Regions from separate parts of the Homo sapiens genome. Here region 1 is linked to region 2. Evidence: fine-mapped expression QTL. Tissue or cell type: whole blood. Region 2 holds a variant in brackets; the other region holds the start of a gene. All regions are shown on one strand. Distances are from middle to middle.

Region 1 (5,000 bases), 390 kb before region 2:
CAAACAAGGTCCTTACTCTCATGAAGCTTACACTGTAGTAAGAGGAGACAGACAATATAAGATGATGATAAATTCTGTGAAAACCATAAACAACTGTGAGGTTATAAAAAGATGGAGTGCCTATGGAAAGCTTTTTGGTTGATAAAGTCCATCAGATTAAGGTTATTAGGAATGTACTTGTAATCAGTACATCAGTTAGGCTTATTAACTTGCTGCAGGACACTACGGAAAACCACAGGGAACTTAGGGTTGAGGGTGTGATTTTTATAGGGTTGGCTTCCCTGATTGATTCAGGGAACCAGGTATCAACTCTGGAATGGTGCTGTCATGAAGTGGGGACAATTTAGTTAAGCGAATGACTGAGCAATTTTTTTTTTTTGAGACAGGTTCTTGCTCTGTCACCCAGGTTCTGGAGTGCAGTGGTGCAATCATGCCTCACTGCAGCCTGAACCTCCTGAGCTCAGGTGATGATCCTCCCACCTCAGCCTCCCGAGTAGCTGGGACTACAGCACACACCATCACACCTGGCTAGTTTTTGTATTTTTTGTACAGATGGGGTTTCACCATGCTTCCCAGGCTGGTCTCCAACTCCTGAGCTCAAATGATCCGCCTGCCTTGGCCTCCCAAAGTGCTGGGATTACAGGCGTGAGCCATTGGGCCCCGCCCAACGGCAATACTTATTCAAAAGGTGAGAAGAATAAAGTAGGGTGGGTAAGTAATTGATCAGTAAGCCTTTTGGAAGAAGGGGTGTTAGTAATTTTGCACCTATGTTATGGCCCTGAGAGAAACACTGTTTCCTGATGCTCTTGCCGTTGGCATTATCTATGCCTATGACAGTCTGAGTTATACTTTCTCAGTCCTGGGCTGATTTTTATTTTTCATTGTGGAGGAATTTTGAATTGACACTTGATTGATGAGGAGCCAGGCTTACTAAAATCCAGGGTAAGAGTCAGAGATATGTATGCACCCTAGCCCTGGCTCTGCTACAGTGTGTGATCTTGGGCACGTTTTTTCTTTTCTTTTAAAGACAACTTTATTAAGACATAATTTCTATACAATATATTCACTCATTTAAAGTGTACAATTCAGTGGTTTTAGTATATACACAGAGTTGTGCAACTACCATCACAATTTTAGAACACCTTCATCGCCCTTAAAAGAAATGCCACACGCTTTAGTGGTCACTCCCTATTTCCCCTAACCCTCCACACCCCACCCCACCAGCCCTAAGCAACTGCCAATCTACTTTTTGCCTTTAATAGTTTGGGGTCCACCAGGTGCACTGGCTCACGCCTGTAATCCCAGCACTTTGGGAGGCCTTGGCTGGTGGATCACTGGAGGCACGCGCCACCACACCTGGCTAATTTTTTTTTTTTTTTGAGACGGAGTCTCGCTCTGTCGCCAGGCTAGAGTGCAGTGGTGCAATCTTGGCTCACTGCAACCTCCACCTCCCGGGTTCAAGTGATTCTCCTGCCTCAGCCTCCCGAGTAGCTAGGACTACAGGCGCGCACCACCATGCCCAGATAATTTTTTGTATTTTTTTGTTTGTTTGTTTTTGTTTTTGAGAGAGTTTTGCTCTTGTTGCCCAGGCTGGAGTGCAATGGCACAATCTCGGCTCACTGCAACCTCCACCTCCCAGGTTCAAGCAATTCTCTTGCCTCAGCCTCCCGAGTAGCTGGGATTACAGGCATGTGCCACCACGTCCAGCTAATTTTGTATTTTTTTTAGTAGAGACAGGGTTTCTCCATGTTGGTCAGGCTGGTCTTGAACTCCTGACCTCAGGTCCCAAAGTGCTGCATTACAGGAGTAAGCCACCGCACCCGGCCAATTTTTGTATTTTTAGTAGAGACGGGGTTTTGCCATGGAAACCAGCCTGGTCTCGATCTCTTGACCTCATGATCCGCTTTCCTTGGCCTCCCAAAGTGCTGGGATTACAGGCGTGAGCCAGCGCGCCTGGCCAATTTTTTTTTTTTTTTTAAATTTTTAGACGGAGTTTCACCATGTTGGCCAGGCTGGTCTCGAACTCCTGACCTCAGGTGATCCACCCGCCTCGGCCTCCCAAAGTGCTAGGATTACAGGCGTGAACCACCACGCCCGGCCAAATTTGGGGAGCAATTTTCTTAATCTCTTTGTGCCTCAGTTTTCTCTTCTACAAAAATGAGACGACAATTGTACTACTGGTCATAGAGTACTAAGAGGATAAGCGAAAACTGAGTGACATTGCCTATCAAGAGCCTCGTATAAAGTCCGAGAGGTTCAGGTCTGTAAGTCAGAGTCCGCCTCCTGGTCCCTAAACGCTCATTTTAATCCCACGCCCCTCCGTGACACGCCCCTGCTGTCTGTCTCCAAGGCAACGCCCAACAGTTTCCTCTCCGGGATTCCTTTCCCGGGGGCAGTCTCTTTTCTCTCCTCACCTGACGGCTCCCCTCCGCGCCTCCGGGGGCTCCCTCAGGCCTCCCCACGGTCATTTCAGCTGGACAGAGGCAGCAGCGACAGTGACAGCGATAGTGGCAGCAGCGGTGGCAGCGAGAGCTATGCGGGGCCAGGGTCCACCCCTTTCTAGCTTTGGCGTCTGGTTGGCTTCCAGGGCAGCCTCCGATCCATCCCGCCCGAGGAGGCAAGGTTCGTTTTCCGATTGGCCTATTTTCTCCGCGCATTTTATTTCCGGTTCTGAGGACGCCGCGGAAGCGGGACGGGATTGGAGTGCTCTGCTCCGGACGCACTACGTAGGTGGGCCTGCGGGAGTTCTGAGTGCGACGGCGCAGGTCTGCACCATGGCGGCCCGGCTTGTCAGCCGATGCGGGGCTGTGCGTGCAGCTCCCCACAGCGGCCCGCTGGTGTCCTGGCGCAGGTGGTCCGGCGCCTCAACAGACACCGTGTATGACGTGGTGGTGTCGGGTGGAGGCCTGGTGGGCGCTGCCATGGCCTGTGCCTTGGGTAAGCCCTTCTCCAGGCTACTAGTGGCCGGAAACCGGGCCGCGGAGGCACGATGAGAGCCGTGAGAGCCCTAGCACGACTTGCCCAAAGACAATTTCTCAGGTCTCGCGACGCTTCTCCCCTCCCCTCCTAGAGGAACCCCAGGGCACGCCGGAATGCGTGTGGTCCTTCAGGGTCCATTAGGGTCAAAAGTGGGAGGGGCGTTCAGAGTCTGTTCTACTCATGGGAAAACAGGCCTTCCCGGGGTTATTTATAAATGAGAGTTCCAGTTTCTCCAGATCCTGGACAGTACTTGTCATTGTCTTTTTGTTTATAGACATTCTAGTGGGTGTAAGTAAAGTGGGATCTCCAGGTTTTGACTTGTATTTCCCTAATGATTAATGATGTTGAATATCCTTTCATATGTTTATTGGTCATTTGTATATCTTCTTTAGAGAAATGCCTATTCAGACCCTTTGCCCGGTTTTTAATTGAGCAGTTTGTCTCTTGAATACTGTGGTAAGAGTTATTTTTATTTTTTGAGACAGGGTCTTCCGCTGTGCCCAGGCTGCAGTGCAGTGGCACGATCACGGCTCACTGTAGCCTCAACCTCCCTGGCTGAATTGATCCTCCTGCCTCTGCCTCCCAAATAGCTGGGACTGCAGGAATGCGCCACCACTCGGCTGATTTTTGTATTTTTTTGTAGAGACGAGGTCTCACTATGTTGCCCAGGCTGGTCTGGAACTTCTGGGCTCAAGCAATCCACCTGCCTCAGCCTCCCAAAGTGCTGGGATTACCGGCATAAGCAACCCTGCCTGGCCATTATTTTGTTTATTCTGTATAAGTCCCTTATCTGATAAATGACTTGCAAATATTTTCTTCCATTTTGTAGTCTTTTCACTTTTTTTTTTTTCCCTGAGATGGAGTTTCGCTCTTGTTGCCCAGGATGGAGTACAATGGCACGATCTCAGCTCACTGCAACCTCTGGGATTACAGGCTTGTGCCACCATGCCTGGCTAATTTTTGTATTTTTAGTAGAGACGGGGTTTCACCATATTGGCCAGGCTGGTCTCGAACTCCTGATCTCGTGATCCACCTGCCCCTTCCTCCCAAAGTGCTGGGATTACAGGCATGAATCACCATGCTTGGCCCATTATGAGATTTTTTTTTTGTGATTTTTTTTTTTTTTTTAGCTCATCAGCTATCATTAATATTAGTGTTTTTTTATATGTGACCCAAGACAATTCTTCCACTGTGGCCTGGGGAAGCCAAAAGATTGGACACCCTGATCTAAGGGCAGCTGTTCCACCCTATGATCCTCATCTCACAAGATACACAAAATTTAACTTAAAGCAGATCATAGACTTCTGTAACAGGGTGGTTCTCATGGCTGCTTGGGAGGCTGAGGCAGGAGAATCGCTTGAAACTGGAAGGGGGAGGTTGCAGTGAGCTGAGATCGCGCCACTGCACTCCAGCCTGGGCAACAAGAGCGAAACTCGATATCTCAAAAAAAAAAAAAAAAAAAAAAGAAGATAGTGCCCTTTACAGAGCATGCTCTACAGAGCATGTCCCTGTGCCCCATCCTCCACAGCAAAAGCTGCCAAGATGGACCGCTCACTGTCTGTATGGCTGGAGCTAACTTTTTTTTTTTTTTTTTTTTTTTTTGAGACAGAGTCTCTGCTCTGTCACCCAGGCTGGAGTGCAGTGGCAGGATCCCAGCTCACTGCAACCTCTGCCTCCCAGGTTCCAGTGATTCTCCTGCCTCAGCCTTCTGAGGAGCTGGGACCACAGGCGCCCGCCATCACACCTGGCTAATTTTTGTGTTTTTAGTAGAGATGGGGTTTCACCATGTTGCCCACGCTGGTCTTGAACTCCTGAGCTCAACTGATCCATCACCTCAGTCTCCCAAAGTGCTGGGATTATAGGTGTGACCCACTGTGCCTGACCTTTCTTTCTTTTCTTTTCTTTTTTGTAGTTTTTGAGACAGGGTTTTGCTCTGTCCCCCAGGTAGGACTGCAGTTGCACAAACATAGCTCAGGTGTGCCACCATGCCTGGCTAGTTAAAAAAAATTTTTTTTTGTAGA
Region 2 (5,564 bases):
GTAGAGCTGGGATTTAAACCCATGTTTATTCAACTCTAAAGCCAGTGATTTTCATTGCCATTCTATACAGGCTTAGAAATTTTCAATATAGGTGTCCTTAAGCAGTTTCTCCCCTTTTACAGATGTTCTATTTTTTTTTTTTTTTTGTGAGATAGGGTCTTGCTCTGTTGCCCAGGCTGGAGTGCAGTGGTATGGTCTCGGCTGACTGCAACCTCCGCCTCTTGGGTTCAAGCAATTCTCCTGCTTCAGCCTCCCGAATAGCTGGGATGACAGATATGAACCACTAGGCCCAGCTAATTTTTGTGTCTTTAGTAGAGATGGGGTTTCACCATGTTGGCCAGGCTGGTCTCAAACTTCTGACCTCAAGTGATCTGCCTGCCTCGGCTTCTCAAAGTGCTGGTATTACAGGTGTGAGCCACCGCACCCAGCCTCAGATCTTCTTTATTTATTTACAAAAAGAATGCATTCTTGTGGCAAAAATGCAAACAAAACTGAAGTGTGCAAAGTAAAAAAGCTGGCCAGGTGCGGTGGCTCACGCCTGTAATCCAGCACTTTGGGAGGCTGAGGCAGGCAGATCACCTGAGGTCAGGAGTTTGAGACCAGCCTGACCAACATGGAGAAACCCTGTCTCTACTAAAAATACAAAATTAGCTGGGCATGGTGCTGCATGCTTGTAATCCCAGCTGCTCGGGAGGCTGAGGCAGGAGAATTGCTTGAACCTGGGAGGCGGAGGTTGCAGTTAGCCGAGATTGCACCATTGCACTCCAGCCTAGGCAACAAGAGTGAAACTCTGTCTCAAAAAAAACCCGCCTCTTTCCACAAACCTCTTCTCCAGGGTTTTCCATTAGTTTGCTCCATTTATAGTCTCCCAGACACTTCTTTCTACTCCCTAAACACGTGTATATATATATACATACATAATAGATAGATTTTTGCAAAAGTGGATTCATAAGATTTATTTAACTCTGAAATCCCACTTTAATTTGGCTATCTTTCTGGGTTAGTTCCCATAGATCTATTGACACATCAGTAGTGGGTAATATAATTGAACTAAAATGTTCCCTCCTGGTGAATCGCTTGAACCAGACGGAGGTGGAGGTTGCGGTCAGTTGAGATCGTGCCATTGCACTCCAGCCTGGGCAACAAGAGCGAAACTCCATCTCAAAAAAAAAGTTTCCTCTTGGTAATTTTTTTCGCTATTTTCCTCTAGGTGACTTTAGAGAATTGTCCTTTTTCTTTCTCTCCTCTTTTTCTCCTCTTTTCTTACCCCTTTGGCTTTAGATCTTATCTAGATGCTAACAACTCCCACACTTACTTCACTCTTACCTGGAACATTTTGTAATTTTACGTATTTTGAAAATTTACTTTGAATTGGGTTTATGCCTGTTCAGAACATACTGTCCTTGAAGAATGTATTTTTGTATCTGTTTGTACTGATGAAAAGAAACTCTGGGCCAGGTGCAGTGGGTCACGCCTGTCATCCCAGCACTTTAAGACTGAGGTGGGTGGATCACTTGAGGTCAGGAGTTTGAGACCAGTCTGGTGAACATGGTGAAACCCAGTCTCTACTAAAAATACAAAAATTAGCTGGGCATGGTGGCACATGCCTGTAGTCCCAGCTATTCGGGAAGCTGAGGCAGGAGAATTGCTTGAACCTGGGAGGCGGAGGTTGCAGTGAGCCGAGATCGTGCCACTTTACTCTAGCTGGGTGACAGAGTGAGACCCTGCCTCAAAAAAACAAAAAACAAACAAAAACAAACAAACAAACAAAACAACAAAAAAAGAAACTCTGGAAGGAAACTAATAAAGGTGGTTGCCAGTGTGTGGTAATGGGGGATGAAAGGAGTTGGGAGTAAACTAACCAAGACCAAAGATACTAGGCCTGAGAGGAAGAGCAGGGTGATTGGGAGACGTTGAGTTTGGCCTTGTGGTCTTGTTTCCCCTTCATGGATGAAATAGAGAGGGCTGAAGAAATGCAACAAACTCGGAGGGGAAGGACCACAAGCCCTTGAAACTGCTTCAGGGCCAACTGTTCCCCTAGTGGGTACCTGTGCCTGTTTTCTTGGGGTGGGAGAAGGGCTGAGTTATTGACAAGCCTTCTTGCCTCGCCAGGTACGTTTCCTGAGGACAGCTGCTCTGTGAAGCCCACTGCCCCAAAGGCACCTATCAAAGACCCTGCAAACAAGCAGATGGCAATCCAGGTTGCCAATGACATTGCCCATCCCAGGTACCTGGGCTGCCTGCTTTTCCCTGAAGTGGGAGCCTGGCTTGCAGGTAAGTGTCCTTCCCCTTTGCTCCTTTAAAGTGATACTTCACTCCTCAAATAAAATGTTTCATCTTTTTATTGTAAAAGTTATTAAGCACACCCAAAATGAAAAATGGTATAATGAACCACTCAGAATGAATAGTAAAATGAACTCCTGATCCAAAAAGTATCACATTGTGCCATATATATTCTTTTTTCTGATTAAAAAAATCAAATCCCTGACATTTTATTCCTAAATTCTGAAATGTATATCTAAAAGTTTAGAACATTTTCCTATGTAACCATCATACTGTTCTCACTCCTAACAAATTTAACATTAATTGCTTCGTATACTCTAATATCTAATCTATATTCACACTTACCCCTAAGTGAAATGACTTAAAGCCATGAATAATGTTAGATTGGAGTTGCAAATGAAACCAGAGAAGCCAGCATCAGCCTGACAGCCCTCTTAGCACAGATCTCTGAGAAACGCCAGTACCCAGGAATGAGGGGCTCAAGAAATACTTGTTACTTTCCTCAGTAATAGCAAGTCATGGTAGCTCTCATTATGAGCTCTTACCATAGAGAATTTGCTATGCACTCTTCTGTCCTGACTGGAAGACTGCGTTCACTCTTTGTGTGTCTTCCACAGAGCTGAGTATAATGCCTACACAGAGTAGATGTTTAACAAATTGTAATTTGTTTTTTGTTTTAGAGATAGAATCTTGCTCTGTTGCCCAGGCTGGAGTGGAGTGGCATAATCACA[G/A]CTCACTGAAGCCTCAAACTCCTGGGCTCTAGTGATCCTCCTGCTTCAGCCTCCTGAGTAGCTGGGACTATAGTTGCATGCCACCACATTCAGCTAACTATTTTTATTTTTTATTTTTGAGATCGAGTCTCACTCTGTTGCCCAGGCTGGAGTGCAGTGGCAAGATGTCAGCTCACTGCAACCTCCGCCTCCTGGGTTCAAGCAATTCTTGTGCCTCAGCCTCCTGAGTAGCTGGGACTACAGGTGTGAGCCACCATGCCCGGCTAATTTTTAGATTTTTAGTAGAGATGAGGTTTCACCATGTTGGCCAGGTTGCTCTCGAACTCCTGACTTCAGGTGATCTGCCTGACTTGGACTCCCAAAGAGCTGGGATTACAAGAGTGAGCCACTGTGCCAAGCCATTTTTTTCTTTTCTTTTTTTTTGAGACAGGGTCTTACTAGGGTGCCCAGGTTGACTTTGAACCCCTGGCCTCAAGTGATCCTCCTGCTTCAGCCTCCCAAGTAGCTAGGATTACAGGTGGGAGCCACTAATTGTAATTTGAATTGACAATCATATTTCCCTGGTATTATTTCCTCAGGGCCAAGTAGTGTTATGGCTGTTTTATCAGATCATTTCATTGGCCCTGTAAAGTAGATATCACTCGCCCCATTTCACAGATGAGGAAACTGAGGGTCAGGCATGTTCAAAGTTCTGTAACTAGGAAGTAGGGGAGCTGAGACTCAATTCTGGTTGCTCTGACTCCAGAGTCTGAGTGGTCATCCATCTCTTGGTAGTCACCAAGGGACTCTGGATGGGGGAGTAAAGGTCTCAGTCCTGGGTACAGGCAAGAGAGGGTAAAAGAGAAGGGTGGAGGAGGGGGAGAGAAAAAGGAAGGAGAAAGAAAGAACAAAAGAAAAAGAAATCAGGGTGGGCATGGTGGCTCATGTCTGTAATCTCAACACTTCAGGGGCCAAGGCAGTGGGAGGATCACTTGAGCCCAGGAGTTCTAGAGCAGGCTGGGAAAAATAGTGAGGCACCATCTCTACTAATAAGAAAAAATTTCATTGGGCATGGTGGCACATGCCTGTAGTCCCAGCTACTTGGGAGGCTGAGGCGGGAGGATCGATTGAGCCCAGTATTTTGAGGCTGCAGTGAGCTGTGATTGCACCACTGAATTCCAGCTTGGGCAACAGAGAAGACCCTGTCTCAAAAACAGAAAATAAAAGAAGCTAGGAGAACATGTCATAAAAGTAAGACTAGCAGTAATTGGATTTAAGGCCTTTGTTTACAGTGAATATAATAGGTGTTTGTTGTGTTGTAGAATGAATGAGAAGCCTTTTCTTTTTTTTGAGATGGAGTCTCACTCTGCTGCCCAGGCTAGAGTGCAGTGGCATGATCTCAGCTCACTGCAACCTCTGCCTCCTGGGTTCAAGCAATTCTCCTTCCTCAGCCTTCCCAATAGCTGGGAATACAGGTGTGTGCCACCACACTCAGCTAATGTTTGTATTTTTTTTTTTTTTTTTTTGAGACGGAGTTTTGCTCTTGTTGCCCAGGCTGGAGTGCAAGGGCACGATCTCAGCTCACCGCAACCTCCGCCTCCCAGGTTCAAGCGATTCTCCTACTTCAGCCTCCCTAGTAGCTGGGATTATAGGCATGTGCCACCACGCCCGGCTAATTTTGTATTTTTAGTAGAGACGGTGTTTCTCCATGTTGGTCAGGCTGGTCTCAAACTCCTGACCTCAGGTGATCCACCCACCTCGGCCTCCCAAAGTGCTGGGATTACAGGCGTGAGCCACCGCGCCCGGCCATGTTTGTATTTTTAGTAGACACGGGGTTTCACCATATTGGTCAGGCTGGTCTTGAACTCCTGAGAGGTGATCCGCCTACCTCCGCCTCCCAAAGTGCTGGGATTACAGGCGTGAGCCACCATACCCGGCCAATGAGAAGCCTTTTGAGTTTCAACTCTCACACTCTAAAGTCTAGAGTTCAGTCTGTAGACATCATTGTATTCCTGGGGCTAGCCTGGAACCTGGCACATATTAAGAGCTCAAATATCTGTTGAATGAATGACTGAATGTATGAATAAATGCACAAGTGAATAAATAAATGATTGAATGAATGATGAATTATATGAAATAACAATTTATTTTTATTTTTATTTTTTGAGACGGAGTCTTGCTCTGTCGCCCAGGCTGGAGTGCAGTGACGCAATCTCAGCTCACTGCAGCCTCTGCCTCCTGGGTTCAAGCAATTCTCCTGCCTCAGCCTCCTGAGTAGCTGGAGTACGCGCAGCCACTCCCGGCTAATTTTTGTGTTTTTAGTAGAGACGGGGTTTCACCATGTTGGCCAGGATGGTCTTGATCTCCTGACCCTGTGATCCGCCTGCCTCGGCCTCCCAGAGTGCTGGGATTACAGGTGTGAGCCACCGTGCCCAGCTGAAATAACAAATTATTTAACAAGTCATTGAGTGAATGAATTAATTGATGGGACAGATGGATGAATTCTTTAAATCTCTGTAGAAAGAAGGTGAGTAGGGAAGAGAATAACTGAATAGCAGCACTATTTACTGA

What was found. PIP is the estimated chance that this variant, and not a neighbour inherited with it, causes the effect.
Region 1: FAM161B starts here. The variant in region 2 is fine-mapped to the expression of FAM161B in whole blood (TOPMed, PIP 0.97).

The regions. Positions count from the first base shown.
Region 1 is chr14:73,947,559-73,952,558 of GRCh38, forward strand. FAM161B (FAM161 centrosomal protein B) reads right to left here and starts at 2,536. Exons shown (of 9, transcript NM_152445.3): 1 at 2,415-2,536. The coding sequence starts at 2,468. COQ6 (coenzyme Q6, monooxygenase) reads left to right here and starts at 2,744. Exons shown (of 12, transcript NM_182476.3): 1 at 2,744-2,937. The coding sequence starts at 2,775. RefSeq lists enhancers at 2,426-3,426, 2,443-2,502 and a silencer at 4,496-4,794.
Region 2 is chr14:74,335,611-74,341,174 of GRCh38, forward strand. It overlaps a transcript of VRTN not described here. Among named protein-coding and RNA genes, the nearest start is that of VRTN, 10 kb to the right of the region's middle. The variant G/A (reference allele first, on the strand shown) is at 3,015.